Regions from separate parts of the Homo sapiens genome. Here region 1 is linked to region 2. The links come from fine-mapping of genetic effects on plasma protein levels. Region 2 holds a variant in brackets. A gene starts in the other region. All regions are shown on their reverse strands.

Region 1 (2,913 bases), not on the chromosome of region 2:
GTTTATTTTAAAAGAAAAAATGTGAATGAAGAATAAGGCCATCCAGGATGAGTGACCCGTGTGCCCGGGACTGGAACCAAAGCACAGACGACCCGTCTCAAAGCCACTCCGGCACCACGGTCACAGCCGCCCCAAAAAGGCCCCCCAGCCCTCACCACCCCTCGCTCTCCCGCCCGCAGAAACGGGGATTGGCCTTAGGCTTGATGGGGATGGGTGTCCCCCAACCCCAGTCAGAGGCGGGTGGCCCAACAGCAGCGAGGCTGAGAATCCGCTTTCAAACCCACTTTATTCTTTTCAGACCAGAAACATTCCTCATTGCACCCCCCTCCCTGCCCTAGATCTTTACTGACCAGGGGCCTCAGGAGGGGCTGAGGAGACAGTGGTATACTCTGCCTCCAGGGACGTGGTGCTGCAGTGGCAGTGGGGACTGGCGCGGCCCAGCAGCTCCAGCCTCCGGGAGCGTAGCTGGACTTGAATGGCCCAGATGGGGGGCCGGTGGCCCGGTAGGGAGGGGTCCTCGTCCCTGAAGCTGTAGGTGGTGGAGTCAAAGCTGTCTTCTGTGGCGGCCACCGACTGTTTGCACACGGGGCAGGAGCGCCGGGGGGCTTGGGAGAACCAGGGGTCAATGCATTTGCAGTGGTAGGTGTGGGAGCAGGGCAGGATCTTGAGTTGGTCGCCCTCCTCATACTCATCCAGGCAGATGGCACACAGGTCGTTGTGCCACGTGAAGGTGCGGACCTGGGCCTTCTGGCAGGTAGACGTCTTCACCGGCCGTCTGTGGCTGCAGCAGGCCTGGGCCCAGAGCCACAGGTGGTTCAGGACAAAGAAGGCTGATACGACCAGGGCCAGGGTACAGCCCAGCACCCAGGACACGGTCAGCACGGGGTGACAGCCCAGGTCGTGGCACGGTGGGTCGTCGGGCAGGAGCAGCGCGTGGGCCGACTTGTTGCAGCCCAGGATGACCCGCAGGTCCTGCGAGGCGGCCTCGCTCACGAACACTGAGGGGATGGCGATCTGGCCCCTCAAGTCCTCGTAGACGTGGGTCATGCTCACGAGGTCGTCGGAGTGGACGTTGTGCACGATGGCCGCCTCGAAGCCGGCGCGCTGGGCGTTCAGCACCTTGAGGTCGAAGGTGCAGTCGTAGCGGCGGATCAGCACGATGGCGCCCAGAGAGCGGTTGCCCAGTCGCGGGGCCTCGATGGGATGGCACGCGTTGGCTGGCTTGACCTCCATCAGGTAGCCCCGTATGCCCTCGGGGGCCAGGGGGACGCCGAACAGCGCCGGCAGATCCGCAAAGTCCACCGAGCTCGAGTTGTCTTCCAGCACGGCCCGTACCACTGCCTGCGCGGGCACCTGGAGCAGCGACAAGACCAGCAAGGCTTTGACTGCCACGAGGGCTCGGCCCGGCCGTGGCCACCCCATGGTCACCCGCTTCGCTGTCTGTGTGCTGCTAGGTCCCACTGGAGGCGGCAGGCATGAGGCCTTTGGGCATCTCCGGGGTCTCCCAGGGGGCCTGTGGCCAGGACGCGAGGGCAGTTGAGTTGGAATGACCGCGTGGCTCAGAGGCAGTGACGCGGCCACTGGGACCCTGCTGGCTCTAGGCATTAAGTGCTCCGGACGGCAGAGCGGCATGCGTCGTGTCTTTGAAGGCCGGTCTCAGGAGGTGCTGGCGCAGGTGGCCTTTCTGGCAGATGACATGGAGACCAGGAGTCACCAGGGTTCTAGATGCCCCCAGCTTCTGTGACATCGCCCTGCTACATTCTGTCCCAGGAGCTGCCAGCTGCCTGGGCCTGTGGCCAATGGATCATTCCTAGGTCTGTGATTTGCCGGTACCCGGGCAAGCTTTGAGATAACTTCTTGAAGGCTCAGGGTATCTTTGGACCCAAGGAGGCCCAGGGATGCTTCAAAAGGGCTGCCGGCCCCCAGCAGTGCAGATTCAGCCCTCACTGTGCGAAGACGCTACCAGCATCAGCTTCTGGAGGTTCCTAGCAACACACTGTAGAAGGTTCAATGTTACCCTTGTCTGAGACTCCAAGAGTGACCCAGACTTGTTCAAGCCACGCCCCCCTACAATGAGATCAGTGCTTAAAACCCAAATTCCTGACCCCCTGTCACCATCCCTCACTCTGCTCCAGCCACACAGATCTCCTTGCTGTTCCTCCAACACACCAGGCAGGATCCTGCCCCAGGGCCTTTGCATGGGCTGGGCCTCCTGCCTGGAAAGCCCTTTCTCTCCGTAGCTGGCTCTTTTATCCGGACTCAGGTCTGAGTCCATATATCCTCAGAGCCCTCCTGGACTTGATTTGGAGGGAGAGTCAAGTGCCAGGGTCAGGGTGGGGCTGGTGGGGGTCAGTGGTCCCAAGTCCGCACCGCCAGGTTGGCCTCCAGGCTTGCACCAGCTTCATTCTCTCTCCCTATAGCATTGCCTCTCCAGCTGGGTCTCCAACTGTGCCCCCTGCCTGAGCTTCAGCCCTGGGCATCAGCCTCACCTCCTCCCCAGTCCCCATCCCCCAAATTTCACACCCTCAATCTGTCTGCAGCCCACTCAAGTCGGATTTCTGTCTCTGCCATTCATAAGCTGTATGACATCAGCTAAATTCCTTAGCCTCTCTGGGCCTCAGCTTCCAGACCTGTAACATAGTCTTTCCCATGCTCTAAACTCTCCCATGGCTCCCCATTGCCCTCCAGATAAAGCCCACACTCTTCTCTGTGGCCTACATGCACCCCTGTGGTTGGGCGCCTGCCAATCTCTGAAGCCTGGATGATTTGCAATGTCCCAGAGGCATCTTGCTTTGTTCACCTCTAGAATTTTGCAAATGCTGTTCCCTCTGCCTGGAACAGAATTCTTGCTCCTCAACTTCACTTTGCCAGGCTGACTACTTAGTCTTTAGATTTTCTGTGTTGGCCTAATAC
Region 2 (2,913 bases):
ACATCCTCATCAGCACTTATTATTTTCTATTGTACTTTAGTTCTGAGTACAGTATGGGATATTAAATGTTCACAGATGACAATGGCCATACCTTGTCAAAAACACATGGATTAAAAGTATGTTTCTAGCTGACCTCATGGCTGCTCTTGTCACTGTCACCATAAAGTCTTTCATGTCCTTCCGCCCTCTACCTCTTCCTTTCTACCCAGGCTGGAGTGCACTGCTGGTCATGAGCTCATTGTCTCACCAACATCCTCTTCTCTTCTTCCTTGTACCAACATCCCTCCATCGCATCCATCTTATAAAATCCCAACTCTAGGAGCCACTTTTCCTGCTGTAAACCTCAGGAATCTGAGCGCTGTCTGGAAACATCTCAGAACAGTGTAGTGCATCTTTAATACAAATCAATGGTTTCCAAACTCAGCTGAGACCTGGATGCCAACTGTCAATTATAGGTAGTCTCTGGTCAGCCTTCTGGTCTTGAACAACTATTCCAAACTTCCACTACTACTTCCAACTCAACTGCCTCCCTTACCCTCATCCTCAGCAGAAGAACTTATCTCTAAGAAAAATGAAGTCATCAAGGATGCACTTCCTTACTTCCTGCTCTCTTACCTACAATCTAACTACCACCTCACCCCATCCTGCTTTTTTTCTTCCAGTCACAGAGTACACTGTTTTCATTTTAAAACCGATGAACTCTGCCTGGGCCCCTGAGCTCATGGCTCTTGGGACTGCCAGGATTGTGCTCCACCAAGCATTCCCTATTTCTCCCTTATCTTTATCCTTTACTGCTCTCCTAATGTATCTGCTCAGGTTTCTCTTCCTCTTCTTATGAAATCATCAGTTCCACCCTCATAATAACCCATTAATTAACCCATTAATCCACTAACCCACGAAGGTATTAATCCATTCATGATGGCAGAGCCTTCAAGATCCAATCACCTCTTAAAGTCCGCACCTTTCAACACTGCCACTTTCTCTTGTTCTGCAAATGTACTAAGTCTCATCCATCCTATAAAAAGTGGAGCCCTCTCTTTACCTAATCACACACTAGTTATCATTCATTATATTTGTTTCCTGGGGCTGCTATAACAAAGTATGCCAAATGGGGTAACTTTAAACAACATAAATTTTATTATTTCACAGTCCTA[T/C]AGCCTAGAAGCCTAAGTTGAAGTGTTGGCAGGGCCATCTAAAGGCTCTAGGGAAGCATCTGTTCCATGTCATTCTTAGCCTCAGGTGGTTGTCAGCAATGGCTTGGCTTATGGATGCACTACTCCAGTCTCTGCCTCTTATCACATTGTGTTCTCTCAGTGTGTCTGTGTCCAAATTTTTCTCATTTTATAAGTTCAGCAGTCATTGGATTTGAACCCATCCTAATCCAGTCTTCATTCCTGATTTTAACCCAATTACATTTGCAAAGATCCTATTTTTGAATAGAGTCCTATACTGAGGTTCCAGGAGAAAGAACTTGAATTTTGGGAGGGCACTATTCACCCCAGAACACTCATATTTCTACAAAGATTCCTCTACCCCCTCCACAGTACCCGCTGTCTGGCTCCCCAGACCCCTCTCCCCACTTCAGTTGGCTTCTGTCCCCACAGCTCTGAAACAGAGTTCGCTAAGGTCAGCACAAACCTCCTAACTCCAGACCTCACCGTAGTAAATGGCCTGGTGTATCTAACACTGATAATCACCCCTCCCTTCATAACACTTTACCTCCTTGGCTTCCTCCCTGATGCCACTCACTTTTCCTCCTATCTTTTGACCCCTTCCTTCTCTTTATGGACTTCTCTGTCTCCTGACACTTCAATGCTGGTGCTTCCCAGGATTACTTTCTTTTCACTTTTGTTGTTGTTGTTTTTAATTCTTCCGGGGCAATTTTATCCATTTTTTGGTTTGAAAGACAACTGTATATTTATGACTTACAAATCTGCATATGTAGCCTAGATTTTCCCCCACAAGCTGCAGGCTTGCATATCCATCTGTTTAGATGTGCTTCAAGAACCTTAGCTCATCATTGTTCCTGAATAAACCTCTAGTTGTCTCTATTTATTTGATATCATCACTGATCCCGTAACCCAAGCTAGAAACCTGAGGATATCTTGCCCTTATTTCTACTTATGTATCTGTTTTTCCCTTATTATCTTTTTAATATATCAAATAATACAAAATACTACATTTGACATATATATATAATGAAAAATAATAATAAAACCAGCACCCATGAACCCACCACTAATATAAGAATCAAAACTGTCCAATACCATTCCATTCACCCATATACTTCCCCCTTCTGTATTCATTCTCTCACCTTCTCCTCCATGAGAATTAACCATGATTTTTAATTTTATTTTATTATCTCCTTTTCCATATTGGTTTATTACATACCTGTGCATCTCTAACCAACACATTTTTCAGTTTTGTTTTTAAGCTTTATACAAATGAAGTCATTCATTTGGGACTTGCTTTATTCACTCAAGATTATGCTCCTAGACTTATTACTGTTGATGCACATGGCTGCAGTTCAATAGTTTTACTGCTACATAATATTCAACCATGAGAATTAATTCAAAACCATAATTTTTTAGAAATATGATTTGCAACATTAGCAGAAACTATGTGGTACTTAGAAACGAATGTAACAAAAGATATATAAGATAGGTATATCTATCTGACATTACTTTCTAAAAATTTATTGATCTCCCCCTCCCCAAATCACTATCACCAAGGCCAAGTGAGGGTAGTTCTATCACCTCTCATCTGGACAGCTTACTCCACAGTCACACCCCAAATCTTGCCATGTTCCATCTATCCTGCCCATTGTAATCACAGCAATCCACTCAGCATGTAAAGCTGACTATACCATCCCCTTGCTCCAACACCTTTGATGGATTCCCTTTGTCCACGAGC

Direction of the effects. Positions count from the first base shown, and alleles are read on the strand shown. Strength reflects both the effect of a copy and how common the allele is.
As copies of C replace T in region 2, the plasma level of the protein whose gene starts at base 1,707 in region 1 goes up (weak association).

The links. A credible set is the group of variants that fine-mapping cannot tell apart. PIP is the posterior inclusion probability: the model's chance that the variant is causal. The UK Biobank Pharma Proteomics Project read protein levels with antibody pairs (Olink). The fine-mapping took linkage between variants from a reference panel, not from the people measured, so its PIPs are less certain.
Region 1: ZNRF4 starts here. The variant in region 2 is the best candidate, but not a certain one, in a credible set for the plasma level of the ZNRF4 protein (UK Biobank, PIP 0.70).

What each region holds. Positions count from the first base shown.
Region 1 is chr19:5,454,211-5,457,123 of GRCh38, reverse strand. It overlaps ZNRF4 (zinc and ring finger 4), which reads right to left and starts at 1,707. Exons shown (of 1, transcript NM_181710.4): 1 at 268-1,707. The coding sequence starts at 1,632. The coding sequence ends at 343.
Region 2 is chr1:171,958,553-171,961,465 of GRCh38, reverse strand. All of the region lies in intron 2 of DNM3 (dynamin 3), which reads right to left. Among named protein-coding and RNA genes, the nearest start is that of DNM3-IT1, 96 kb to the right of the region's middle. The variant T/C (reference allele first, on the strand shown) is at 1,155.